7 separate regions of the Homo sapiens genome follow, and regions 1, 2, 3, 4, 5 and 6 are each reported to be linked to region 7. Evidence: microRNA targets listed by miRTarBase, many of them from high-throughput screens and not tested one by one. Region 7 holds a microRNA gene; each other region holds the end of a gene's coding sequence. Distances are between the middles of the regions.

The links. Region 7 holds the annotated microRNA hsa-miR-6884-5p (AGAGGCUGAGAAGGUGAUGUUG, at 1,775-1,796, opposite strand). A microRNA usually pairs through its seed, bases 2 to 8, with sites in the 3' UTR of a target mRNA and lowers its output. Matches are read on the target gene's strand: a 7mer-m8 pairs with bases 2 to 8, a 7mer-A1 pairs with bases 2 to 7 and ends in A, and an 8mer does both.
Region 1: miRTarBase lists RASSF9 as a target of hsa-miR-6884-5p. Seed matches in the 3' UTR shown: 7mer-A1 at 1,404-1,410 and 7mer-m8 at 3,725-3,731.
Region 2: miRTarBase lists ZNF101 as a target of hsa-miR-6884-5p. Seed matches in the 3' UTR shown: 7mer-m8 at 2,007-2,013 and 7mer-m8 at 1,574-1,580.
Region 3: the mRNA of EVI5 is a reported target of hsa-miR-6884-5p. Seed matches in the 3' UTR shown: 7mer-m8 at 2,827-2,833, 7mer-m8 at 2,691-2,697 and 7mer-m8 at 1,378-1,384.
Region 4: the mRNA of MGAM is a reported target of hsa-miR-6884-5p. Seed matches in the 3' UTR shown: 8mer at 826-833.
Region 5: the mRNA of HOXB3 is a reported target of hsa-miR-6884-5p. Seed matches in the 3' UTR shown: 7mer-m8 at 1,720-1,726.
Region 6: the mRNA of DNAH9 is a reported target of hsa-miR-6884-5p. The part of its 3' UTR that is shown has no 7-base or 8-base seed match.

The regions. Positions count from the first base shown.
Region 1 is chr12:85,801,375-85,805,440 of GRCh38, reverse strand. RASSF9 (Ras association domain family member 9) reads left to right here. Exons shown (of 2, transcript NM_005447.4): 2 at 1-4,066. The coding sequence ends at 739. Among named protein-coding and RNA genes, the nearest start is that of RASSF9, 33 kb to the left of the region's middle.
Region 2 is chr19:19,679,973-19,684,051 of GRCh38, reverse strand. ZNF101 (zinc finger protein 101) reads right to left here. Exons shown (of 4, transcript NM_033204.4): 4 at 546-4,079. The coding sequence ends at 3,752. Among named protein-coding and RNA genes, the nearest start is that of ZNF101, 13 kb to the right of the region's middle.
Region 3 is chr1:92,510,217-92,514,295 of GRCh38, forward strand. It overlaps EVI5 (ecotropic viral integration site 5), which reads right to left. Exons shown (of 20, transcript NM_001350197.2): 20 at 1-3,754. The coding sequence ends at 3,440. Among named protein-coding and RNA genes, the nearest start is that of GFI1, 25 kb to the left of the region's middle.
Region 4 is chr7:142,105,659-142,109,731 of GRCh38, forward strand. MGAM (maltase-glucoamylase) reads left to right here. Exons shown (of 71, transcript NM_001365693.1): 71 at 156-1,089. The coding sequence ends at 233. Among named protein-coding and RNA genes, the nearest start is that of MGAM2, 4.0 kb to the right of the region's middle.
Region 5 is chr17:48,547,133-48,551,132 of GRCh38, reverse strand. It overlaps HOXB3 (homeobox B3), which reads left to right. Exons shown (of 5, transcript NM_001384749.1): 5 at 1-2,263. The coding sequence ends at 799. It overlaps HOXB-AS1 (HOXB cluster antisense RNA 1), which reads right to left. Exons shown (of 7, transcript NR_102279.1): 4 at 2,670-2,758; 5 at 1,187-1,244; 6 at 731-793; 7 at 1-109. Among named protein-coding and RNA genes, the nearest start is that of HOXB2, 4.0 kb to the right of the region's middle.
Region 6 is chr17:11,968,858-11,972,924 of GRCh38, forward strand. DNAH9 (dynein axonemal heavy chain 9) reads left to right here. Exons shown (of 69, transcript NM_001372.4): 69 at 443-891. The coding sequence ends at 670. Among named protein-coding and RNA genes, the nearest start is that of ZNF18, 27 kb to the right of the region's middle.
Region 7 is chr17:40,024,609-40,028,687 of GRCh38, forward strand. MIR6884 (microRNA 6884) reads right to left here and starts at 1,801; the gene lies at 1,724-1,801. It overlaps MED24 (mediator complex subunit 24), which reads right to left. Exons shown (of 26, transcript NM_014815.4): 15 at 3,301-3,338; 16 at 2,775-2,857; 17 at 2,248-2,426; 18 at 2,039-2,138; 19 at 1,548-1,723. SNORD124 (small nucleolar RNA, C/D box 124) reads right to left here and starts at 3,037; the gene lies at 2,934-3,037. RefSeq lists an enhancer at 2,039-2,949.

The DNA of each region.
Region 1 (4,066 bases), not on the chromosome of region 7:
CATTTCCCAGGACCATACTATTCATCAGCAAGTCAAGAGAATGAAAGAGCTGGATCTGGAAATTGAAAAGTGTGAAGCTAAGTTCCATCTTGATCGAGTAGAAAATGATGGAGAAAACTATGTTCAGGATGCATATTTAATGCCCAGTTTCAGTGAAGTTGAGCAAAATCTAGACTTGCAGTATGAGGAAAACCAGACTCTGGAGGACCTGAGCGAAAGTGATGGAATTGAACAGCTGGAAGAACGACTGAAATATTACCGAATACTCATTGATAAGCTCTCTGCTGAAATAGAAAAAGAGGTAAAAAGTGTTTGCATTGATATAAATGAAGATGCGGAAGGGGAAGCTGCAAGTGAACTGGAAAGCTCTAATTTAGAGAGTGTTAAGTGTGATTTGGAGAAAAGCATGAAAGCTGGTTTGAAAATTCACTCTCATTTGAGTGGCATCCAGAAAGAGATTAAATACAGTGACTCATTGCTTCAGATGAAAGCAAAAGAATATGAACTCCTGGCCAAGGAATTCAATTCACTTCACATTAGCAACAAAGATGGGTGCCAGTTAAAGGAAAACAGAGCGAAGGAATCTGAGGTTCCCAGTAGCAATGGGGAGATTCCTCCCTTTACTCAAAGAGTATTTAGCAATTACACAAATGACACAGACTCGGACACTGGTATCAGTTCTAACCACAGTCAGGACTCCGAAACAACAGTAGGAGATGTGGTGCTGTTGTCAACATAGTTCCAATGGCTCCTTTCTGACCTGCTTTCATGTTTTAATGTTTGTTTAATTTAATAGGAAACCTCATTTTAAATATAACACTCAAAAAAATGTAAATCATATTGTAGTATTCAATAGTTAATAAAAACTCGAGAAATGTGTTGTTTCTGATGTGAAATTTCCAAAGGAACTTTAATTATTGCAAGTTCAAGCAATGAACTATTTATCACGAATGCAGCACAAATAGCTTGTCGTTGTAGAACACAGAAATAATTTGATGGGAATCATATGATAATCTTCCTTAGCGTCTGTGGAAAACGATTTACATAAACTTTAAAAGCAATCCTCAATATTAGACAGTCCAAATATTCAAACATGAAGAAGTAGAATTAAAATGTGCTGTAATATATATTTTTCCAACACTGTATAATTGGAATTTTTAAATCTGTAAAGTATATGGGAGCTACTGTGTTGTAACTGCATTAATTCAAAGTTTGGTTCTTTTAATTGATCCTTGATAATACAACGTATCATGTATATCACTTCCTGAACCCTTCTACCTGTTGAGGCCTATGAAACAGGCTGCTGTTGGGACATGTATAAATACTGGCAGGGAATCAGACACGTATAGGGTACAGATGAGGCAGGGCCAAGTGCTGCATACAAACAGCAATTTTTATAAAGAAGCCTCAATTTATTAAGAGCTATGTGTGGATGTTTGCTATCTGGCAATTCAGATCTCCTGACCAAACCCATGTTCATTCACTGAGTGAGGTATAGTGTGGGTTACAGAGAAAATCAGTCATAGTGTTATTTGTTTATGTCCTATCTACAAAAGTTGCAATGATGGAATTTGGAACCCTTCTGTGGATAAAATAGAATCTGCTATAATTATTAGCATTTTGTCTCTGAACCTACAGAGAGGAGACCACATGGACAAAAGACTTATTCTGCTATGCTATAACTCAGATTGTCTTATTTCTTCATCTAAAGTGCTTAAAAGAGACTTAGTTCCTAAAAAAGTACCAGCAAAATCCCCAACACACTAGTAAGAATTCAAGAAATTGAAGGGATTATTTAGGTCTTATCTTGACTGACAATCATTATTATGGCCTACTATGCTTGTGTTTTAATTAGAAATGTGCTTTCTTCTCTCTCCCTTCTTTGCTTACTTTCTTCTTATTTGCCTTCCTGTCTGCCTTACTTCCTCTCTTTTCCTGCCTTCATCTCTCCTTCTCCCGTCTTCTTTTTTTCCTTTGCTTCCTTCCTGCCAATGAACACATGATGCAATCATAATGAAATAATTATTTTTTATTGTACTGTTAACTGAGTACTGCTGCAGTTTATTTTTATTTAGCTGATATCTTTCCTGTGTGTCACTGCACATGTAAGTAGAAATATTATTTTACTTAGTTTTAATATGTGGACATTGGTTAAGGGTCCCAATCCTTCTCATTTCTTCTCTTTTATTCTTTTGCATACTTTTAGTGCAGGTTTTAACTCAGTTTTCTTATTGTTTTACTTTCAAAATTTGAAAAGTATTTAATTTTTTAAAGCAACTTTATTGTTAACTCATTTAAAAAAATATATTGCTCCTTAAATCTTCTTAACATATTTGTTCCTGCCTTCTCCTGTCTTTTAACTCATCTTTGGGAAGACATTTAGAATTTTCTGATTGTTTCAGTTTCGTGAGCATTTATACTATCATTTCTTGTACCAAAATAGATATTTTCAGGTCTTATTTCAAGTTGGCTGGTAAGAAAAATAGAAATTTCCATTCTATGGAAAAATACAGTGATAAAGAGTAATAATTCTGGCATCGGTTACATTTTTTTAAAAAAGATAAAATTGAATAGTCATCTGTGAAAGGAAAGTTCACCTGACTAAGAGTCCATAAAATTATTCAACAATATAAGCCACTGACATATTCATTGTTCACTAATGGGGATCAAATTCAGAAGATCATCGTAAATGATAAACCCATTGTATCATTTTCCTACAGTGGAAGTCATCTCTTTGAATTATTCTTATCTTTAGTGAGAAAATACTGAAAGAACATGCTTATCTATTTGACTAATTATCTGAATTCAAGAGGTTCTGATAAGAAGTAGGCCTGGAGAGATAATTTCATCTTAGAAACTTTGAATTAACTTCTGCTTTTATACAGTTAAGCACAGTAATGCATTTAAGGCTCAATTCTTCTACATTTTACAGTAAATAATGTTTGTAAGTCTCAGAAAGCAGTACCATTGCTTTTTAAATTCATTTCAGAATTTCCATTTGCTCATTAGTTATACAAATGTATTTGTGCGTTTGATCACTACAATCATTAAGTTTTAATCCTTCATCAGCTACCATGGTGAACCTCTTAATTTACAGTTACATGTTAATATATTAACACAAATAGAAGTACTGAAATACAATGCCCTCATGTCTGGATACTGAACTATTTGTTATTAAATTAAGTGAGAATTGGAATTATAAGTATAGAACTTGATAGAAAGTGTAATGTTATTATCTATAGAAATGTTAAAGTATAAATTCTTGAGTAATCTGACAGGTTAACTATGAAATTGCTATATGCAGCTAGAAGAAACAAACCAAAGCTGACTATTCTTAATTTCTGTAACAGGACCTAGATTCATCCTTGGTCATCCTTCCACTTGGAATTCTCCTTTTTATCCTTCTGCAATGCTCTGAAATCTTACCCTTTCCACAGTCTTTTTAATGTGCTAGCTCTTCTATGATATACGTTTGTTCCATTCAATTAGTTGGAATCTCATCTCTGAACCCAGAAATATTTTAGAGGTACTTCTCATAAGAAGCATTTTTATTCTGGCTTACGCTATATATATTTATGCACTTACCTAATTCCCCTCCTTCAATGAATTCTATTTTTTTTTTCCTTGAGACGGAGTCTCACTCTGTCGCCCAGGCTGGAGTGCAGTGGCGCGATCTTGGCTCACTGCAAGCTCCGCCTCCCGGCTTCACGCCATTTTCCTGCCTCAGCCTCCTGAGTAGCTGGGACTACAGGCGCCCGCCACCACGCCAGGCTAATTTTTTTGTATTTTTTTAGTAGAGACGGGGTTTCACCGTGTTAGCCAGGATGGTCTCGATGTCCTGACCTTGTGATCCACCCGTCTTGGCCTCCCAAAGTGCTGGGATTACAGGCGTGAGCCACCGTGCCCGACCAATGAATTCTTATTAAATTACTTTATCATCTGTCTTGTTAGCCTTACTCTTTCCTATTAACTTCTTTGCCCCCTGCTCCCTTTTTGAATTGAGTGGCTAAATTTTAGAGGTTTGTAGCTTTTGTGTGTGTGTGTGTGTGTTTTATAGATGGTAAAT
Region 2 (4,079 bases), not on the chromosome of region 7:
TCTTGCCTTGTGACATACCTACTCCCACTTCACCTTCTGCCAAGAGTAAGAGCTCTGAGGCCTCACCAGAAACCCAGCAGATGTGATACCATGCTTCCTCTATAACCTGCAGAATCGTGAGCCAATGAAATCTCTACTTTACAAATTACCCAGTGTCAGGCATTGCTTTACAGCAATGCAAAACTGACTAAACACCACAGGATCTTTGGGAGGCTGAGGCGGGCAGATCACCTGAGGTCAGGAGTTCGAGACCAGCCTGGCCAACATGGTGAAACCTGACCTGTACTAAAAATACAAAAAATTAGCCAGTCGTGGTGGAGGGCACCTGTAATCCCAGCTACTTGGGAGGCTGAGGCAGGAGAATCACTTGAACCTGGGAGGCGGAGGTTGCAGTGAGCCAAGATTGTGCCACTGCACTCCAGCCTGGGCAAGAAGTGTGAAACTTTGTTTCCAAAAAAAAAAAAAGGGGATCATCCCAATAGATGCAAAAAAGTTCAATACAACTTGATGAAACACTCAATAAATAATGAACAGAAGGGAACTTCTTCAAACTGAATTAAGGCATTTATTAAAAACCTGCAGCTAACATCATACTTGATCAGGAGACTAAATGCTTTCTCCATCAGATTAGATAAAAATATTGTCATATCACAGGGCTATCCTTAAGTCAAAATGAACCATCCAAATAATACTCAGAAATAACGACAAAGAGTAAAGAGCAAAAAATGGGAATGATTCACATGAGACAATACTCTATGGTAAACTTTACATACTGATAAATTGATACCAAGTCCTTATTAGCAAAGAAAATGGAGTCAACATTGTATCATGCCAAAAAGAGTAGTTTTCCCCATAATAAAGGAAAGTGGAATACATATGATGGGTGAGGAATATGCAGAATCTGCCACATAACACCAGTAAGAAATCTCTATTAATAAAGACTCATGGGCCGGTCGCAGTGGCTCACTCCTGTAATCTCAGCACTTTGGGAGGCCAAGGTGGGGTGGATCACAAGGTCAGGAAATCAAGACCATCCTGGCCAGTACAATGAAACCCCGTCTCTACTAAAATACAAAAAATTAGCCAGGCATGTCGGCACGCGCCTGTAGGAGGCTAAGGCAGGGGGATTACTTGAACCCGGGAGGTGGAGGTTGCAGTGAGCCAAGATCGCGCCACTACACTTCAGCCTGGCGACAGAGCAAGACTCAGTCTCAAAAACAAAAGAAAACAAACAAAAATAGACTCATTTTGTAATGGCCCATTCATCACAGAACAATTAAACACTACATAAAAATTAAACCTGCTTACATATTAGAAATAAATTTCACTTCACCCACAGATCCAACACTTTAAAATGGATAGAAAAAAATGAAAACCAAAATGGATAGAAAAAAATTTTATTAACTAACTTAGGATAAAAACACTTCCTATTAAACCTCAGGTACCACTGCTTAAAGAGTATCATTCTCACATTTCCTTGCAAAAGTGGAAACCCATAATCCAAAGATCCTTTTTAAGAATGAGTCACAGGGGCCGGGCAAGGTGTCTCATGCCTATAATCTCAGCACTTTGCGAGGCTGAAGAGGATGGATTCCTTGAGGTCAGGAGTTCAAGACCAGCCTGGCCAATGTGGAAAAACCCTGTTTCTACAAAAATACCAAAAATTTAGCTGGGCATGGTGGCGTGCGCCTGTAATCCCAGATGCTTCGGAGACTGAAGCAGGAGAATTGCTTGAACCCAGAAGTCAGAGGTTACAGTGAGTCAAGATCGCGCCACTGCACTCTAGCCTGGGCAACAGAGTGAGACTGTGTCTCGGGAAAAAAAAAAAAGGCCAGGCGCGGTGGCTCACACCTGTAATCTCAGCACTTTGGGAGGCCAAGGAGGGCGGATCACAAGGTCAGGAGTCTGAGACCAGCCTGAACCACATGGTGAAGCCCCGTCTCTACTAAAAATACAAAAAAATTAGCCAGGCGTGGTGGCATGTGCTTATAATCCCAGTTACTCAGGAGGCTGAGGCAGGAAAATTGCTCACACCCAGGAGGCGGAGGTTGCAGTGAGCCGAGATTGTGCCACTGCACTCCAGCCTGGGCGACAGGGCAAAACTCCATCTCAAAAAAAAAAAAAAAAAAGAAAGAAAAAAGAATGAGCCACTGATAAATGCTATATATTTATAACTTTGTGTAATAACTCATTCATGATTAAGTTTTTGAGCATTATATAATAATTAATTTGCATCAGGCTTTCAAAATTACTTACGTTTATAGGATTTCTTTCGAGTGGATGTTCTCACATGATTAATTTTTTTAGACAGGGTCTCACTGTTGCCCAGGCTGGAGTCCAGTGGCGCAATCTCCACTCACTGCAACCTCGACCTCCCAAACTCAAGCAATCCTCCCACCTCAGCTTCCTGAGTAGCTGGGACTACAGGCGAACACCATCATCCCTGGCTAACTTTTCTATTTTTTGTATACATGGGATTTCTCCAGGTTGCCAGGCTGGTCTTGAATACCTGGCCTCAAGCAATCTACCCACCCCAGCCTCCCAAAATGCTGGGATTACAGGGGAGAGCCACTGTGCACAGCCCATGTGAATTTTAATTATTGTTAAAATGGAAGTTTCCTGTATTTTCCAAACTACTAACGTTTCCATCCAGTGTGTATTCTTCGATTCATACCATCCATCTCCAGTGTGCACTGACACGTGTCTTTGAATGGAGATGAGAGCAATGAGAGTTTCCCCATATTCTGTACATTTCTACAATTTTTCTCCAGTATGAGTCCTTTTATGGCTCTGAATAGAACTGGAATATCTGAGGTCTTTGGATTTTTTTCCAGTTAGTCTTTTCATATCTTTGGAAACTGAATGTATTCCCATATTCCTTACATTCATAGGATTTCTCTCCTGTATAAATGAGAATTATTTCTTTCCCTTTTTTTCTGAGACAGAGTGTCACCGTCATCCAGGCTGGAGTGTAGTGGCACGATCTCAGCTCACTGCAGCCTCAACCTCCCAGGCTCAAGGGTTCCTCCCACCTCAGCTTTCTGAGCAGCTAGAACTACAGGGATGCACCACCTCACCCAGTTAATTTTTTTTTTCTTTGGAGATATGGGGCCTTCTTTTTTTTGTTTGTTTTGAGACGAAGTCTCGCTCTGTCACCAGGCTGGAGTGCAGCGGCGCGATCTCGGCTCACTGCAACCTCCAAGTCCCTGGTTCAAGCAATTCTCCTGCCTCAGCCTCCCGAGTAGCTGGGACTACAGGCACACACCACCACGCCTGGCTAATTTTTGTATTTTTAGTAGAGACGGGGTTTCACCATGTTGGCCAAGATAGTCTCCATCTCTGGACCTCGTGATCCACCCACCTCGGCTTCCCAAAGTGCTGGTTTTACAGGCATGAGCCACCACGTGATATGGGGCTTTTTTGTGTGTGTGTGTGATGGAGTCTCACTTTTGTCGCCCAGGCTGGAGTGCAATGGCGTGATCTCGGCTCACTGCAACCTCCACCTCCCAGGTTCAAGCGATTCTCCTGCCTCGGCCTCCCGAGTAGCTGAGATTACAGGTGCCCACCACCATGCCCAGTTAATTTTTTTGTATTTTTAGTAGAGACGGGGTTTCACCATGTTGGCCAGGCTAGTCTTGAACTCCTGACCTCAGGTGATCCACCCGCCTCAGCCTCCCAAAGTGCTGGGATTACAAGCGTGAGCCACCGTACCCAGCCGATATGGGGCCTTCTTATGTTGCCCAGGCTGGTCTCAAACTCCTGGGCTCAGGTGATCCCCCTGCCTCCTGCCAAAGCACTGGCTACGCCCGGCCAAATGAGTTCTTTCATGAAGTCTAAGGTAATTTGAAAAAGTAAAGACTTTACCACACTGTTTACAATCAAAGGGTTTTTCTCCAGTGTGAGTCATTTCATGTCTTCGGAGGGAACTGCACCACCCAAAGGCTTTACCACACCTTGTACATTCATATGGCTTTTCTCCACTATGAGTTTTTTTATGTCTTCGAAAACAACTGGGATAATTGAAGGTTTTACCACATTTATTACATTCATAAGGTCTTTCTCCAGTGTGAGCTCTTTCA
Region 3 (4,079 bases), not on the chromosome of region 7:
TTTAGAATTCAAACATGATTCTAGAAAATTTCTTATCTTAAAGTCAAACTATAACCTTTACTCAATAAAGCATACTCTTAAAGGTCTGTGATGCATGCTTTAAAGAACAGTGATGGGATTCTGGAGTTCTTTCCTTTCTTTCTCCTTCTCCAAAGATACAGATATCTTTCTACAGTTTTCTATGGAATAAGAGACTTCATCATATAAAATGGCTGGCATGTTTTCCCTTTTGAATAGTTCTGATTATAATATCCACCATGAAATTTTACGTTTCCAAATCATAAGCTTAATAGCAAAAGCAAACAATTTGACCTACCACTGAGCTAAATTGAAGAAGAAAAACCTGCATTTTAGAGTATCTGTTATCAAGGGTTAGCAAACTTTTTCTGTAAAGGATCAGATAAATATTTTAGGCTACCTGGGCCATATGGTCTCCCTTGCAATGACTCAACTCTGCTACTGTAGCACAAAGCGGCCATACACAATATTTAAAAGGGTGAGCATGGGTGTGCCCCAATAAAACTTTACTTATGGACACTGCAATTTGAATTTCATATAATTTTCATGTGACACAAAATATCAGTCTTTGGAATTTTTTTCCCAACTATTTAAAAAAGTAAAAACTGGCAGCTGACTGCAATAGCTTGTAGGCTGCACTTTGCTGACCCCTGGTCCAGATCATTCAGATTTCTTGATGTGAGGGTCAAAGCAATAATGTGGCCATGCATCATCTCACTTCACTTGGACATTGATAGCTTTCTGGGCTGATAGTATAGAACTCCGAACAAAAATCCCCAAAGCACAAGACAATCCTACGAGTAAGTAGTATCTACACTCACAGACTGTGTAGAGCTTGTAAGTGTTGATACTCATCTATCTATCTGTATATATATTCAGGAAACATTTAAATCAAATTCATTTAAATTATGTTGTCAAAAAAGCAGGGAATTGCCAGGTGTGGTGGCTTACGTCTAGTAATCCCAGCACTTTGGGAGGTCAAAGTGGGTGGATCACCTGAGGTCAGAAGTTTGAGATCAGCCTGGCCAACATAGCGAAACCCCATCTCTACTAAAAATACAAAAATTAGCCAGTTGTGGTGGCGTGCACCTGTAGTCCCAGCTACTTGGGAGCTGAGGCAGGAGAATCGCTTGAACCCGGGAGGTGGAGGTTGCAGTGAGCCAAGATCGTACCACTGCACTCCAGCCTGAGTGCAGTGAGACTTCATCTCAAAAAACAAAAATAAAAACAAAACAAAACAGAGAATTGAGAAATTCTTCAGCTGAACCCTTTCAAAAGCTTTGGTGTTAGGGAGATCTAGGTTAAAATCTTGGCTCTTGCTGGGAGCAGTAGCTCGCACCTGTAATCCCCACACTTTGGGAGGCTGAGGCAGGAGGACCACTTGAGGCCAGGAGTTCAAGACCAGCCTGGACAACACAGTGAGACACCTGTCTCTATATTAAAAAAAATCTTGGCTCTGCTACTTACTAGCTTGTAACCACAGATAAGTTATTTAACCACCAGAATTTAGCCTGGTGTTAAGGACAGACACGCAGGGGTATGTTTTCAATTTCATTTCTCAGGCAAGCAAATAGCTACAAAAACCTTGCTGGAAAGCCTAGTCCACAACGTACCTGAAGGCTTAACTCCTAGTTTTTGACAGAAAACTACTTTTATCTCTTCTACTCTATTTCATATTTTTTTTTTTGCCGCATGCAACATACTGTGCAAAACTGTGCCTCCATACATACTGAATTCTACTTTTCTCTTCCAAGGCTTTTTCCATAGGTTAACAAAATGTTTTTTTTTTCATAGGCTAACAAAAATGAGAGTAGAAAGTACCCAGTCAACATATTCATGTCGTCTTTCCATAGTGCAAGTATAATTTGGGTGTTTTCTCTAACTTATCAGTGACAGGCATCCTGTTTTCTAGGAAATAATATCTAAATGATATAGGAAAAACTGGTAGGAAAGGATTCTTATGGCTTTATCTATAGAACAAAAACTAGAGATTCTGAAGATCATGTTAATAGATTATTTGTAGATATAATTGCTATGTTTCTTGGACCTTAGCCCATTGCTTAAATTATATTCAGTAGAATATTAGCACTAACTAATATGTGCTATAACCTCTTCAGTCATGAAAAATTTAGTAGTTACATACACATGAAATAAAAGATTCCACCAACAGTGTTTTTGAACAGGCATCAGTTATGAATCTGCTAGTATTGAATGCTAAGCAAAATACTAAAGCTCTTAAAACATTAGTGTTTTATTTTTAACTTTTAACCTATTATTTACAGAAGTCCTGTTAGATGCTGAAAGCAGTCATTTTGCAACATGTATGTTCTTCATATAAAATGATGTTCAATGTTAGGTGGTACAGATTTATAAATATGTACAAACAAAACAGTATGTCTGTAGTTAACCTACTACTCTAGTAACCAACACATGGAAGCATCATATGCACATAAAAGTTAAACATTAAAACAAAACTTAAAACTCTCAAAACAGATAATCATGAATTTGTGTTTATAAAATTATATAGAATAAAGGCTTTGTGTGTGGGGACTTTCAGTGGCCCACCAATAATTTTCATGAAAAAATAAAAATAGAAAAAAAAAACCTCCCAGACACAAACAGACAAGGTAGGCTGGGTGCAGTGGCTCACACCTGTAATCCCAGCACTTTGGGAGGCTGAGGCGGGTGGATCACTTGAGGTTAGGAGTTCGAGACCAGCCCAGCCAACATGGTGAAACCCCATCTCTACTAAAAATACAAAAAATTAGCCAGGCGTGGTGGTGCGCACATATAGTCCCAGGTACTCGGGAGGCTGAGGCAGGAAAATTGCTTGAACCTGGGAGGCGGAGGTTGCAGTGAGCTAAGATCACACCACAGCACTCCAGCCTGGGTGACAGACTGAATCTCTGTCTTAAAAAAAAAAACAACAATAAAAAAAAAAACACAAGGTAAATCAGATGTATGTCTTGGTCAAATGTCTGTAGACAGCCACCTTGAGAACAAATTGATAAACATAAATACACAATTTGCTCACTGAGCATAAAATATTGCACAAGAGCAGTTTTGTCTGAAGAAAATTCAATTTTCCATAGTTTTGAACTTCAGAATGGTTCCCACATATAGATATAGTTGCATTTTCTAAACAAGAAACATTAATATTCAGTAATACTGTTAGAACCTTGTTTTACACATTAACCATATACCAGTCTACTTTATGGCAATGGTAAATCAGTGGTAAAGATTTGGCAAAGATAAAAAGGCAGATAAGACTGTAAAATATATATATATATATATATATATATATATATATATATATATATATATATATATATGTACATATGAAACAAATTATTTCCAAAAAGCCCTAATCATATGATAACTGATCCCTTAAATAAATCCATAGTCTAGGTCACAGTGATGGTCAGACAGTGGTTGAATACGACTCTCTTCTTCTCGGGGGCCGCTCCTTTTGAACCACTTGGTTGCTCTCTCTGGTCTCCAGCACACTGTCTTCTGTTTCGCTCTCACTACCATCTGCCACTGCGGGGTCCAAAGACATCGAACCAGATTTTCCGTGCAAAGGAAAACCAACACCAGTTTCCTGTAAGGAATTATCTATAAAATCTTCATCGGAGGAATGGAATGATTCATCATCTCCTATTAAATGGTTGACAATGTGGATTCCATCAAAAGGAGGTTGGCCTGAGAAGCCCCTCTGGCCTTTTAGGCACCTGAGCTGTTAAAACAAAATCCAAGTTAATACAGTCAAATGGGGGAAACACACACACGCCAAAAAGCAAACATTCCATGTTTAAGGAAGAAGATGCCTTATTATTTTTCTATTTACAGGTATAATCATAGTTACTAATTTTTGAGTGCCTTCTATGTGTTATATATAATGGGCTCATAATTATTTTTATTTTATTTTTTTTGAGACAGGTCTCAGTCTCACTTTGTCACCCAGGCTGGAGTGCAGTGGTGCGATCTCGGCTCACTGCAACCTCCGCCTCCCAGGCTTAAGCGATTCTCCCACCTCAGCCTCCTGAGTAGCTGGGACTACA
Region 4 (4,073 bases), not on the chromosome of region 7:
CTTCTCATCTGAAACTTTGAAGGCAGTCTTTTAACTAGACAATACAATGTAGAAGTATTAGGGGGTTATTTGGACTGGATACTTGCACCTGATTTATTTGCATGCAGGAAATTTCAACACCGGATGCCCAATTCTTTTCCTTTGGTTCCTAACAGGTATTAAGCATCGATGTGACTGACAGAAACATCAGCCTACATAATTTTACTTCATTGACGTGGATAAGCACTCTGTGAATTTTTACAGCAAGATTCTAACTAACTATGAATGACTTTGAAACTACTTATACTTCATACTCATAAAAATTATTGTGTGTTGCTAATTTGTTCATACCCACTATTGGTGAAATATTTCTGTTAATTTTGTTATATGTTTTTTGTGTGAACCCTAAAGGTTAAACCTTAGCCCTGTGGGATAGGCAGTTAGGGAGGTGTGGAAAATCTATGCATTACCTTAATGTCTCTGTGTGGTTAGTATGGTAGTGACTGTTCATCATATGACATTTACTGAAGATGAACTGGGTCCATGATGAAGTGTGTGTATGTCCACGTTTGTAATCATAGAATGGACCCCATTCTTTTGTTAAATACACAAGAGAAAGCTTTCTGTGACAGTTCCAGGTCTTGAAGCTAATCAGCATCTCAAGAAAGTATCCAGAAAGAACATCTGCTAGTTGGTTATAGGCGGTGGGAGGAATAATATACCTAATTGGTTATAGGTGGGGGGAGCATGATAAGCAAAGAAAAGGCAAACACAAGGAAAGATCAGATGAAACAGAAGATGATAGTAAAAGTGATCCTAAGTAAGAACATAATGTAAAATTGTCAGCAGCCTCATGGGGAGGAAAAAGGAAGAGTCAACTCACTTGAAGAAGAGGGTCTTGAGAAATCCTTAGCATAAAGGGCTACTGGTGAGATTGAGATCTGAGCAGGCAAAGCTCAAAAGAGAGTTTGGAGGTTAAAAATAATTTATTTTTGCAGTAGTGTGCTTTGAAATGTGTAAATCTTATTTCTAATGTATACAACCACATTTCACATAAAAATATGCAATTTATATGCCAGATAAAAATAAAACAAGTGAATTTGCAAGTGATTTTGAATTTTGTGCTATTTTGACCATGAGTAATCTCTGTTTGGGGTTAAGGTTCTTGTTTAGCAAACTCTTATGAATTTGTCTTTCTGGTTCTCTTCGGCATCACAGAACCTACAGCCAAATCCACCAATAGGATGATAACCTTTATAATTATCCTTTTTCTTACATCTCTGCAAGGAGTCTTTTATAAGATGTGGGTTTGTGGAAGGGTCTATTGATTACTATTTTAATCATCATAGCAGTTGCTATATTTAGGAAAATACCAACTCCAGTAAAAATAGGAGTTGCAACCTTCTTGCTTAAAATTCTATAGGGTTAAAATGTGAGATAAGGAAATTATATATTAATGTTCAACAGGAATATTAACTTTTGATGTTACCTGAAAATGAGTTGAAAATGAATGTGTGTGGAATGAATGAACCTACTTCTCTGTGTTTTCTTCTTTTCTTATAACCAGGAAGCCATTCATTCTCCCTGCACACTCATGTGTCAGCACCTGCATAAGGCTAGAGACAAACAATATTGTTAAATCATCTAATTATCACAATACGGGGCATTTGGATGAGGGCCTGAGCTAACTAGGAAACTGGTGAAATATGGAAAAGCAGCCATGGGAATCCTTTGATCAAAAAGGTGGGAAACTTGTCAGCTTTCCTCTAACAAACTCAGGAAGGCCACAAAGATGAAAACGTTATTTACTTGATATTTAAAAAATATTTAATGTTACCATCAAGGATATGTTGGTGGAATTTGGCTCTGGCTGCCACAGAATGCTTAAGGAGAGGCATTCTGACTATATAATTCTGATGGCTAAGGCCCTAGTGAGGCCAGTGGGGTTTTGGAGCACACGAAGTGTCAGGGACCCCACTGACAGCCTAGTGAAACCTACGGAATTCTTCCTCACAACATTGTTTTTAAATGCATCAAGCAAAATGCATGCTATTTCAAAGAAAACTTATCATATTACGATACACTTATCCAAATATTAAAGATGATATAGTAACCCATGAGATGTGTTTTTTTCATTATCAAATTAAATGAAAAGATCCAACAGTGGAAGTAACAATGCTATAATTTCAATGTAATGATCAACATCAACAATATTTTGAGATATCCACTACAATTTCATAATGTAATATGGAAAGATCTGTGATTGCATTATTGACAAACTCATGTGCTATGAAAACTACTGTGTTTTGTTGTCTACATTCATAACCTAACAAAATGCTAAATTTCAGCCAGAAATGTGTGAAAAAGAGATTATCTGTTGGAACCAATATGGCTTACCGGAGTTAACGCAGAAAGAGCTTGCTGACGTCACAGCCTGAATTTCCACCACAGGTTCTTACTAACTCCCTCCCAAATTTGCACATGAGACCCATGATGAGGCATGAAGAGATAACTGTGCATGCCTGAGGACTTTCTAGATTTCCTCTTTCTTTTACCAATCACCTGCTAATCCCAGAATCCACCCCCTAAGTCTTTTCTGATAAAAATACTTCCTTAAAGCCAGCACAGGAAGACAGGTTTGAGCTGGACTCCTGTGTCCTGTGAGTCGACTTTGCAATAAAAGCTTTTCTTCGAAACCCTTTATCAGAGTATTGGCTTCTAGCGCATCGAAGAGTGAGCCCTTTCGCTCAATAATACCCCCAGAGGTTGTTCCTCAGATCACAGTCTGAGAACCACCTCTCATGGAACCATATCCATTTGTGGCCATCCCAGAGCAGCCCCTACAACATGGACCTATGCTTACAACTCCTGGCCAGCTATTCAGGAAGAGGCTGGGGGCCTTCCTTTTCCACATATGCTCTGTTTTTTAGATCACATAATTTTGCTTTCTTCATAGGTGTGCCAAAATAAAAAAAAAAACACTCTCAAACTCTTTCACTTAAATAGGAAGACATCTATTCCTTTCTTATTAATGTTATAACATTAAATGTCATATATACCTGCAAAGATAAGGTTATGTTGGCCGTGGCAGATGTCTTCAAGATCTCATCAATATTTCTTTGTTCTTGTCATAGCGGCAGAGTCACTGAGAGTTTTGCATCTGGCCTTGGAGAAAGGTGTTCTGGAAGTTAAGGGTGACTCATATTACTAGTTTCTGATCTGATGATTCCAACCAGCAGCTTGCTGTGACAACTGTTTGAGTTCCGCCAATAGCTAACTTTGCCGTGCCTTGTTACCGATAGACAACTGGAAGATGTCGGGTCACGTGCCTGTCTCTACCCTTCAAAGTGGCTCTGTTATTTTCTCATTGGTCAACACCAGTATGGTGATTCAATATCTTCCAGTTACTAGTTAGCAAGAATGGAAGGTGAAGGTAGCTATTTTCTGCACTTTAGGAAACAGGTTATAGATTAGCTGGGCCTGTTGGTTACCACTATTAACATAAATGAAGTCACAAATGTGCATGGCATGTGGGGAGTTAAAGGTAAAATATCACACAAAAAATAGATCTTATGTAACAATAAAATCTCCCTTCTTGACCTTTTGCCAGGATGTCTTCCCAATTTGAAATGAGATCTTGGTACATTTCCCCTCTAACAAAGGCCACCTTGTACTGGGGCAAATGAAAAGCTGAATATGTCATTCCAGCAGTTCATAAATGCAGAAACCGAGTCTCTCTTTCTCTCTCTCTCTCTCTGTCCCTCCCTCTCTCTCTCTCACTTTCTCTCTCTCTCTCCGTGTGTGTGTGTATGTGTGCTTTTCCACATACTGAGCATTTGAAGCAAACACAAAAGATTCACTACTGTGAACACTGTTATTTACAGTTCTTAGGTGCCACCAAAAGAGCTCTCTGTACCCTCATATATTACTGGCAGGAATGGGGGTGTAAAATGGTGCTGCCACATTAGAAAGCAGTTTTGCAGTTCTTCAAAAAGTTAAAGACTTGTCACATGACCCATGATTCCACTCCTAGGTATATTCCAGGCAGAATTTTAAAACGTGTCAGCTCATAGCAGCATCGTTCATAACAGGCA
Region 5 (4,000 bases), 8.5 Mb from region 7:
TGGCAGCGGGGGCGGTGGCGGCGGCGGCGGGGGAGGGGACAAGAGCCCCCCGGGGTCGGCGGCGTCCAAGCGGGCGCGGACGGCGTACACGAGCGCGCAGCTGGTGGAGCTGGAGAAGGAGTTCCATTTTAACCGCTACCTGTGCCGGCCTCGCCGTGTAGAGATGGCCAACCTGCTGAACCTCAGCGAGCGGCAGATCAAGATCTGGTTCCAGAACCGGCGCATGAAGTACAAGAAGGACCAGAAGGCCAAGGGATTGGCCTCGTCGTCGGGGGGCCCATCTCCAGCCGGCAGCCCCCCGCAGCCCATGCAGTCCACGGCCGGCTTCATGAACGCCTTACACTCCATGACCCCCAGCTACGAGAGCCCGTCCCCACCCGCCTTCGGTAAAGCCCACCAGAATGCCTACGCGCTGCCCTCCAACTACCAGCCCCCTCTCAAAGGCTGCGGCGCCCCGCAGAAGTACCCTCCGACCCCGGCGCCCGAGTATGAGCCGCACGTCCTCCAAGCCAACGGGGGCGCCTACGGGACGCCCACCATGCAGGGCAGTCCGGTGTACGTGGGCGGGGGCGGCTACGCGGATCCGCTGCCGCCCCCTGCCGGCCCCTCCCTCTATGGCCTCAACCACCTTTCCCATCACCCTTCCGGGAACCTGGACTACAACGGGGCGCCCCCTATGGCGCCCAGCCAGCACCACGGACCCTGCGAACCCCACCCCACCTACACAGACCTCTCCTCTCACCACGCGCCTCCTCCTCAGGGTAGAATCCAAGAAGCGCCCAAATTAACACACCTGTGATGGGAAAGGGCGAACGAGGATTAGGGGATGGGGAGGAAGAGAGAGACTGTGGAGCTCTGGGGGGCAACCTGGAGGTCTGAAAAGAGGAGCCAGAGAAGGTGGTACCCAGGCTTCCTGGTCAGAACCGGCCTGGAGCTCCTTCCCTTCCCCCTGGCCTGAGAGGTTGCTTTTAAGTCTTCCACCCCTTGTTCCATCTGCCTGCCAACCCATCGGAAAGGAATCCACATCATATTGGAGATGACCCCATCAACCCCAGGGCTCCAGCACTACCAAGTTGGAATTCCACGCCCGGGAGTGGGGTAGAGGAAGACGAGACAGGACGAGGCAGAAAAGCACATTTTAAAAACCAGACAAGATGGCTAGGCCATCACCAACCAACGGACTTACCTTACATCTTTGTAGGTAATTCCCCCCAAATCTTGATTTTTTTTTTTCCTCAATTATCCTTTAAAAAATAAGAAAACACATTTCAAACCCAAAAGGCACAAAACACGTTCCCTTCCAACTTTCCCAAAACCTCAAATTTGTTCCCATTTGAGGTTTATTGAGGTACACTTCTAGCCCCCGGTTTTTCTGCTCTAGAACATTCATATCTATACATCCCACCCCCATCAATTACAGTTTTTAGAGGGCTCAGGGATGGTGAGAGATCCTGAAAGAGCTGCCTATATTATAAATTATATACATTTTTTTTTAAGGAAAAGTGTGGAGGCTAGGGCAGGCAGGTTGTTAGGACTGAAGGTTTGCCCATTCTGCTGCCTCCATCTCAGCTCCAGCTCCATCCCCCTCTCCACAGAAAGCAGTTGGTGACACGAGGTTCTATACTTTTCTTCTGTTGCTCTCTTGACTTAACGTGAAAACAGGGTATATTTGAACAAACTGTCCCAGGCAGGGGCTGGGCAGGGCCTGTGTGCCTTGCTCAGCCTCCTGACAGGACACTTTTGTTGCACTTAGAATTTACATTTTAATGGATGTAAAAACAACTGTGAGAGATGTCTGGGCCTGCAGAAGTCCAGCATTGCTCAAAAAAGCGTGTGTTCTAGTGAACATTTTCATATATATTTATTGGTTATAGCCTGTTAAAATATTTTCTTTTTTGTATTATTTATCCCCCTACATTATGTATTTATATGAGGGAAAAAAAGGAAAAAATTGTACTTTTTTAGTATTTACCTGTTACAAAGGACATTGTGTTTCCTGTCATGTAAAACCAGCTATTTTAGTTACTATTGTACTCTAGAAAAGAGCTGTAGATTTATGTTAAACTCGTACTTACGAACAATTGTAATTAGTTCTAAAAGGCATGAACTCAGCTCCTAATCGTCACTGTATAGTCCTGAATTTGTAGAACTAGAGTTAATTCCCTCTTGGAACTTTCTTTGTTCTTCAGTAGTTACTTTTTTCCTTACCTAAAAGGGTTGTCTGTCAAACAATTCTTGAATAAACTTTCTGTTATCAATTTTATCTTGTCCTGGTGGTCCAATTTAGATAGCAGAGCAAGGCTGCTGACTGCCAAATTTCCCCCAAGGGAAGAAGGACAAGGACAAGGACACTGAAGACCCTTCCCTGGCCTTTTTGTCCACTGCCCAGGTTCCTGTCTCCCCCTTGATATGTCTTAAGTTTAAATACCATTTTCTCACTCATAAGAGCCTGTAACATTTTGCCAACTTCTTCAGCTGTGGTTTAAGTAGCAAGTTGGGAGGTAACGGGGGACTCTTGGATGCTCTCTGTAGGTTTTTCTGTTTGGCCTGTATGCCTCTAGGTTTTTCATTCATTGACCTTTCGTCTGTTAGCTCCTTTGGCCACAGCGTCCATGCACCCCCCACCCCCCACCCCTTCCCACCACCACCAAGAAAATCTGGCCGATTACGGTTTCTTCCACGAAACCTAAACTTCACAATCCTCTTCCGGAGCCACAAAGAAGGTGTCACGTGACCCGAAGCCCAACCACCATTGGGTCTAAAATGAAAACAAAGAAAAATGATTAATCTAAAAAAAAAAAAAAAACAAAACTGAGGCCTAGACTTCTCAGGTCAAACTTTAAAACTAAGTAAAATTAAATCACTAAATAAAACTCGAGGCGGAGGGAGGGGAAGCACGTTCGATTTCCCCTGCCAGAGAAAGGGGAGAGGAGGGTGGGAGAAGCTGTTGGATCCAAGCGTAAATAAAACGGTCCCCAGGCTAATGTGCGGCTCTGTTTCCATCATCCTTGGGAAAACTTCATTTCTTAGTTGTGGTTCCATAAAAGTTTTATCACATTGGAGTGAAAATAGAGAAGGTCTGTCAAAGATGAAATGTCACCGCCGAGTCGCTGGAGCCGATAAGAGCGAGAAGACAGGGCGGCTGAAATATGGAGCTAATTCGTTGAAAGAGAAGCGATGGCTGCTTGCTGAAGAGCTGCATAATTCTAATTGTAAGCGATGTGCCCGCATTGCTTAATTAGGAGCATATATTTGGTGGTAGTGATGTTGGGGGAGTGAGAATCGTTCCAGGCCCTGCCTTAAAGAGAGGGCTGATTTTCATTTTTATGTTGCATCCTGGCAGTCCAAGGTTAGTAATTATAGTCTTTATGCAACAATAAATAACAATAAAAAAGCAACCTGAACTCTACGCCCTCCCCCTTCCCCACCACCAAGTAGGATTTTAACTGGACTCATCCAAGCAGCAAGCAATTTAGCATTGGGTCAGGCTATAATTTAAAGGCATAAGAGCGTGCAAAGTTTGATTGGGATCAAATAACGCTCAAGGGTTTTTCTTTCTTTCTCTTTCTCTCTTCTTCCTTGAATAACATTTTCTGAATGATATAACTAGATGAAGCACCATGTTTGGCTCTGGGGCTGGGTTGGGTTGTTATTTATCTAGCAGGAAAGAGGCCAAGAAAGAGAATTTAGCTTAAGTTTGAAAAACAGAGCTTTGGCTCGAAGCTGGAATTGCAAACAAGAAAAATAAGAACCAACTTGGCTTGGTGTTCCCTATCCTTCTCTTTGGAAGATTCCAGGCGCTCAGCTAAAGCAGCCAAAGACGTGGGTAAAATATCCGTGCTGTTAAATTCACAGCAGGACAGGGGGGCGGGGGAGGGATGTCTCTGAAAAGGAGGGTTCTCTGGGCCCCTTTTAACACCCAAGTTTTCCGCTGTTTGCTAATCTGGCCATAAAATCTGTCAGTGAGGGTTAGAGAGAGCTGTATTTCCTGCAGGGACAG
Region 6 (4,067 bases), 28 Mb from region 7:
TGAAATAGAAAAGAAACAGAAACAGGACATAACAAAAGCTTTAAAAGCTAAAGCATTTACTGGCAGAAACTGTGTCTTAGTCATTTTTAAATCCCCAGCACCTAGCCCGACATCTGGCAAATATACACATTCGATATGCTCATGAAATGAATTAATGAAAAAACAAACTAGGAGAGAATCAAGCTCCAAAGGGATTCATTTGTATATGATAATAGCTTTTGGAACTCTGCTTCACCTGATTTAGGCAGAGAAAAATAGAAACGTGTTTCTACATATCAGATGCATTCCATCAAAGGCTGCTGAGAAAACCTGGAAGGGGGCAGGCATAAAGGCAGCCATGTCAGTCCAGTCTTTCCTCCCTTGGATCTGCTGACAAGAGCAAGGCTGGTTGGCTGGGCTCTGGGTCTGATCTAAGGTGCCTCTTCTCATGTTTTATCCTCAGGCTGGGATCATTACAGAGGCAAAGCTGAAGGATCTGACACCCCCTATGCCTGTGATGTTCATCAAGGCCATTCCTGCAGATAAGCAGGACTGCCGCAGTGTCTATTCCTGTCCTGTGTACAAGACTAGTCAGCGGGGACCCACCTACGTGTGGACTTTCAACCTGAAGACTAAGGAAAACCCATCCAAGTGGGTTCTGGCTGGAGTAGCCTTGCTTCTCCAGATTTAGCATCCTGCAGAGCCACCGAGAAAATAAAAAAGCTGGGCTTGGAGGCTGCCTAGAGGGACAGGTGGGTGAAGGGTCACCACAGACACTTAGAACGGTAAGAAACCATGAGCACTCACAATTCTGTAGAATTCCTCTAGGGAACTTGGAGAGGTGTGCCTAAGGTGAGGCTGAGCTGAAGGAATGTGGGCCCAGGTTTCTTAATAAAATGATTTACTCTTCAACTGTGTCTGGCCCAGGATTTGAGAGCTGCTGAATCATAAATGATCATGTAGAGACCAAGAGAAACAAACCACAAGGGCCCTGACCTTGTTACACAACACTATCCTAGGTGCTCTTCTTCCAGGCTACCCCACGCAGTCCTTGGACCAGTGGTATTGGCATCACCCATGAACCAGAATCTCCATTTTAACAATCTCTCTGGAAAATCTGTATGCACATTATAGTTTGAGAAACACTATCCTGGAGCAGGGGTCACCAACATTTTTCCATAAAGAGCCAGTTAGTGAATACTTTTAGTGATTTACAGGCCACAATGCCTCTGTTTGAACTTTGCAACTTTGCCGTGGTAGACCAACAGTAACCATAAATGATGAGTAAATGAAGGGGTGTGATTGCATTCTAACAAATTTTATTTACAAAAACAAGCAATGGGCCATATTTTGCTGATCCCTGCTGTAGAGGATAAGGGATGTGTATACTGATATTTATCCTTCATTAATTCATGCATCCACTCAATACATTTTAATCTGACACCTACTATTTGTTGTGGATACAATGTGAACAAGCAAACAGGAAGTATCTCCATCATCCTTTCGATCATTTAAGAGGAAGCCAAGAAGAAATCTTTACTGTAAAGCCTTTTTTTTTTTTTTGAGATGGAGTCTCGCTCTGTCACCCAGGGTGGAGTGCACTGGGGCAATCTCTGCTCACTGCAACCTCTACCTCCTGGGTTCAAGCGATTCTCCTGCCTCAGCCTCCCAACTAGCTGGGATTACAGGCGCCTGCCAACATGCCTGGCTAATTTTTATATTTTTGGTAGAGACAGGGTTCCACCATGTTGGTCAGGCTGATCTTGAACTCCTGACCTCAGGTGATGTGCCTGCCTCAGCCTCCCAAAGTGCTGGGATTACAGGCGTGAGCCACCGCGCCTGGCCATTCTAAAGCTTTTTAATCTAAAAGTTTTCTAGATTTACCTCCGTGGAACAAATTTTCACTGGAAGTCCAATGGGTTTAACAGTTTTGATGAGTTTTAAAAAGCTCTATGAGGCAGCTTGTTTGGTAAGAAAAGTATGGGAGGACCCAGTATTCCTTCTGTGATTATTCCCTCCTAACCTTGCAGAAACTTAATTTTGTGATTACTGTTTTGAACAGTGGTTCTTAAACTTGAACAGGCATCAGAATCCCCTGGAGGGCTTGTTAAAACAAAGATTACTGGGACCCGCCCTTCAATATTTCTGATTCAGTAAGTTTAAACAAATTGCCAATGCTGCTGGTCTGGAGGCCAGTTTGAGAACTCGTGATTTAAAACCTCAAATCCCATCATCCTATAAATCTCTGCTATATAGAATATGGAATCTGATGCTAATTCCTCTATGATTTTCCTGCTTTCTTCCTTGCAGTTCCTGCACCCCCTAAGTGGGGCCTTCTCATCTTCATGATACAAGGGAGTTAATAAATTTTACTGCTGGAAGCCAGGACCTCCAGCTTGGGTGTTGTCCCTCCTCTCCCATCAACTAGTAATGCACTTGCAGTTTCCTGACTATAGGTTAATCTGTTTTCAGGGAGATAACTCTGTCCACATTAGCATCATCCTTCCTGAGCCTCACCCATAGTAGTATAATAACATCAGGCAGGCCGGGCACAGCGGCTCATGCCTGTAATCCCAGCAATTTGGGAGGCTGAGGCAGGCGGATGACAAGGTCAGGAGATCAAGACCATCCTGGCCAACATGGTGAAACCCCGTCTCTACTAATACAAAAATTAGCTGAGTTTGGTGGTGCGTGCCTGTAATCCCAGCTACTCGGGAGGCTGAGGCAGGAGAATTGCTTGAACCAGGGAGTCGGAGGTTGCAGTGAGCCGAAATCACGCCACTGCACCACTGCATTCCAGCCTGGCGACAAAGCAAGACTCTGTCTCACCAAAAAAAAAAAAAAAAAAAAAAAATCAGGCCTAAAGAAGGAGGTGGAAGATGGTGGGAGGTGGAAGATGGTGGGAGGGGGAAGTCTCACTGTCAGGCCTCTGAGCCCAAGCCAAGCCATCGCATCTCCTGTGACTTGCACCTATACGCCCAGATGGCCTGAAGTAACTGAAGAATCACAAAAGAAGTGAAAAGGCCCTGCCCCGCCTTAACTGATGACATTCCACCATTGTGATTTGTTCCTGCCCCAACTTAACTGAATGATTAACCCTGGGAATTTCCTTCTCCTGGCTCAGAAGCTCCCCCACTGAGCACCTTGTGACCCCCGCCCCTGCCCACCAGAGAACAACCCCCTTTGACTGTAATTTTCCATTACCTTCCCAAATCCTATAAAACGGCCCCACCCCTATCTCCCTTTGCTGACTCTCTTTTCGGACTCAGCCCACCTGCACCCAGGTGAAATAAACAACCATGTTGCTCACACAAAGCCTGTTTGGTGGTCTCTTCACACGGACGCACATGAAATTTGGTGCCGTGACTCGGATCGGGGGACCTCCCTTGGGAGATCAATCCTCCGTCCTCCTGCTCTTTGCTCCATGAGAAAGATCCACCTACGACCTCAGGTCCTCAGACTGATCAGCCCAAGAAACATCTCACCAATCTCAAATCCGGTAAGTGGCCTCTTTTTACTCTCTTCTCCAACCTCCCTCACTATCCCTCAACCTCTTTCTCCTTTCAATCTTGGCGCCACACTTCAATCTCTCCCTTCTCTTAATTTCAATTCCTTTCATTTTCTGGTAGAGACAAAGGAGACACGTTTTATCCGTGGACCCAAAACTCCGGCGCCGGTCACGGACTGGGAAGGCAGCCTTCCCTTGGTGTTTAATCATTGCAGGGACACCTCTCTGATTATACACTCACATTTCAAGGGTGTCAGACCACACAGGGACGCCTGCCTTGGTCCTTCACCCTTAGTGGCAAGTCCCGCTTTTCTGGGGAAGGGTCAAGTACCCCAACCCCTTCTCTTGTCTCTACCCCTTCTCTGCTTTTCTGGGGCAGGGGCAAGTACCCCTCAACCCCTTCTCCTTCACCCTTAGCGGCAAGTCCCGCTTTCCTAGGGGGCAAGAACCCCCCAATCCCTTATTTCCACACCCCAACCTCTTATCTCTGCGCCCCAGTCCCTTATTTCCACGCCCCAACCTCTTGTCTCTGCGCCCCAATCCCTTATCTCTGCGCCCCAATCCCTTATTTCCACACCCC
Region 7 (4,079 bases):
TTAGCTGGTAAACACCCATGTTCACAGCAGCACTATTCACTATAGCCCAAAGGTGGAAGCAACTGAAGTGTCCACTGACAGAGGAGGGATCAAGATGTGGTATAGCCACACAATAGAGGTTTCTTTTGTTTTTGTTTTGTTTTTTGAGACAGAGTCTCACTCTTTCACCCAGGCTGGAGTGCAGTGGCGTGATCTCGGCTCACTGCAACCTCCGCTTCCTGGGTTCAAGCAATTCTCCTGTCTCAGCCTCCCAAGTAGCTGGGATTGCAGGCGCCTGCCACCACTCCCTGCTCATTTTTATATTTTTAGTAAGGCCAAGGTTTCACCATGTTGGTCAGGCTGGCCTTAAACTCCTGACCTCAAGTGAGCCACTCACCTCAGCCTCCCAAAGTGCTAGGATTGCAGGCGTGAGCCACCACGCCCGGCCCACAACAGAGTATTATTCAGCCTTAAAAAGGAAGGAATTCCTGTCACGTGCTACTACATGGATGAGCTTTGAGGACACCATGCTGAGTGAAGTCAGTGAGTCACGAAAAGGCAAGGACTGTATGATTCCAGTTAAATGAGGCATCTAAAAAGTAGTCAAATTCAGCAGGGCACGGTGGGTCACGCCTGTAATCCCAGCACTTTGGGAGACCACGGTGAGAGGATCACTCAAGGCCAGGAGTTCAAGACCTGGCAATATAGTGAGACCCTGTCTCTACAAAGACTAGAAAAATTAGCCGGCTGTGGGCCTGCAGTCCCAGCTACTCGGGAGGCTGAGGCGAGAGGATCACTTGAGCCCAGGAATTTGAGGTTGCAGTGAGACTCACTCTGATCTGGGCAAGGGTAAGACCTTGTCTCAACAACAACAACAACAAAAAGTATAAAGTAGTCAAATTCCTAGACACACAAAGTAAAATGGTAGTTACCAGGAGCTGGAGGGAGGGGAAAATAGGAAGCTGTTGTTCAGTGGGTATGGAGTTTCAGAGATGCAAGAAAGTTCTGGAGACCTGTTACACAACAGTGTGAATATACTTAACACTACTGAACAGTACACTTAAACATGGCTAAGATGGCAAATCTTATGTGTTTTTTACAATTAAAAAAAGCAAACAACTTATTGGTTGGGTGAATGAACTCAACGTAACTGGTCACCAGGGAAGTCCTCCAAGCCCCTGAAGAGCCAGGGCAGGAAACTGTCCTAAGAGGTAACTGAGGGTGGGGCATGGCCTGTAAAATCTACAGACAGGTTCCTAGCTCCTAGACAGTCACACAGCTTTGTTCTTTTGGGAGCTAGTTGTCTAGAACTTGAGTCTCTGCGGGCAGACCCTGTTTAGGGTCTGCATTTCTGACAACACAGCAGGTGCTGGCATATAAACGCTTCTGCCACAGAGACACAGTACATGTTTGCTGAGTCAGATGAGTGAATGCATGAATAGGAAAGTGAGTGAGTGATCAAGTAGCGTGTTTGCGAAGGTCAGAAAAGAGAGGGGTGCTTGTTATTGGATGTGCTGACTTCTCACAACACACTTGAAGGGTCTGAGAAGGGAAGGCAGGTTACCGACCTCTCATTGTAGAACTGCAGGGTGTTCTCACTAAACAGTGGCCCTGCCAGCTGGCGGATCATCTGCAGCGACTTCTCACGCTCATCCAGCCCCAGCATCCGGACGTGGGCCACAAGCCAAGCCACAGCACACACCGCCAGACTGCATACCTTCCCTTTGATGTTATCAGTGATTTTCTAGGGGAGACGGAAAGGTGATGGGCTACCATCTATCTCCCTTTCTTGAGCCAACATCACCTTCTCAGCCTCTGCGGGCAGCTAAGTGCAGCGGGTGGAGTCCCGGGCCACATTCCACACCTCTCTCCACAAGTTTGATCTTCCCAGAGCTACCTGGGCCAGAGGGAGTAGCTAAGACAACGATTACACAAAATATCAATATCAAAACATGAGCTCCTGGATTAAAGGTCTTCTTGCCCTTACGAAATATAACAAGTCATCACTGGCTGGCTCTGTGTCTCAGGGGAGCAAACGCTGCTGGGAAGGCGGGGCTACCTGGATGGACTCGAAGGCCAGGACCCCATTCTCCCAGGCATTGAGGATTTCCAAGATGGCGGCTGAGATGCTGAGACAGGCCTCATGCCACTTCATCTGCCTGCGGGTGTGCAGAGAAGTCAGCACAGGGGAGCAAGGAACGGGCTCAGGGAGCGGGTCTTGACCCTGCCCCCACCGCCACCCTTGGAGTGGGCGCCCGGGCCACTGACACTAGCTTCATCTCCGAGGAGTTGTTGAGCAGGGCCACCAGGGACTCCACTTTGGTGGAGTCGGGGCGGAAGCAGGGGTGGTCAGGGTTCAGGATCTTGCCCTCCTCAGGCATGCAGGTCTGCATCCAGGTCTCGAAGAAGGGCACCTCAGCTCCTGTGCGCGACTCGGACAGAATCACCTGGGAAAGGGGAAGGGGGGCACCAGCCGAGTGGGGAGGGCGCGGCGCCTGCCAGCGCTGGACCTGGGGCTGCACTGTTTCCCGCCAGGCTGCTGCTCCAGCCCAGCCCAAAGACTGGGGACGAACTGGTCTAAGGGAGCCAGACGGGGGCAATGCTGCCACCTAGTGGTCAATGTGAACATAGGGCTGAAGGTGCCTCTACGGACTCCAGCCCGGGTGGGCACCTGGTTTCTGAGGCCCACAGAACTAACTGGCTGAGAGGCTGCGGGGGCGCAGGCAGTGAGGTGGGGAGAGTTCCGGGTTACCTCCTTCCCTTGAGCCCCCGTCCCGGTCGCTCCCCTCTCTCACCTCTGAACCATAGGTCTGGGCCACATGGCACAGCATGAGGAAGGAGATGTCAAACAGCAGGGCCCGGACGGAGGCCGGTTTGGCTGTGGAAGGACGGGAAGGCTGAGCTCCCAGACGAGGGCAGGGGGGAGCCCGTGTCTGGGTTGACAGGGATCGGGATTTGCCTCTAGGAAGGTCAGGGACCAAGTGGCTCCTTCAAAGCTCTGAGGCTCAGAATCCTTTTCTTGAGTCTCAACTGGAACATCATCCCTTCCTTGAGACCAAAGACCCCCAGCACCCTCTCCTGGCATACCTAACCAAGTCGTAAAGGGATGAGGGGGGGAAGGAGACACAGGGATGGTCTGGGAAGAATCCTTTTCCAGCATTATCCACTTTCAAGCTCTGTGGAAGCTTCCATTGGTCATGGCTCTGAGGAGGGAGCACAGCCTCCCCCTGTTGAGCTGGGGAGCCCTCCTCCCTCCCACACTCTCCCGCCACACCCCTCCTCAGGGCCCACTGGGCCTGCGGATGCACAGGGCTGACTTACTGCTTTCTTCGCTGCCATAGGTTGTGAATTCATTCAAACTGAAAGGAATGGAGACAGGCTGCATTGACCAGGGCATGAGCTGAGCAGTAGCTGGGCGCTGGGGCTACACATGTTCAGAGAGCGATAGCTAGAGTCTGAGTTACTGGTTAAACTTAAAATGAGACACATTGCTATAGAAAAAAGGTTTTTGTGGTTTTTGTTTTTTGTTTTTTTTTTGTTTTTTTTGAGAAAGAGTCTCGCTCTGTCACCCAGGCTGGAGTGCAGTGGCACAATCTCAGCTCACTGCAACCTCCGCCTCTGTTCAAGCAATTCTTCTGCCTCAGTCTCCCAAGTAGCTGGGATTACAGGTGCCCGCCACCACACCCGGCTAATTTTTTGTATTTTTAGTAGAGACAGGGTTTCACCAAGTTGGCCAGGCCGGTCTTGAACTCCTGACCTCAGGTGATCCGCCCACCTTGGCCTCCCTAAGTGCTAGGATTACAGGCGTGAGCCACCGCACCCGGCCAGAAGGATTTTTATTGTTAGAAGATTTCCAAGGCCTAGAGAATGGCTCACTGAATGGAACCATGTTCTATATATGTCAAATTCCAGGGCAATCAAAAAAGGCAACAGAATTTGAGAGCCCCTTATTAATAACTGGGCATACTTGGAATTCCTCCATGCCCAATGTTCAACACCTCAACCCTTACCCTCATCTCTTTACCAAACATGTCCACTCCATCCTCAGCTGAAGAGAAAGGAACACTTAGGTCGTGAGAACAGGCCCTTCCTCCAAGATC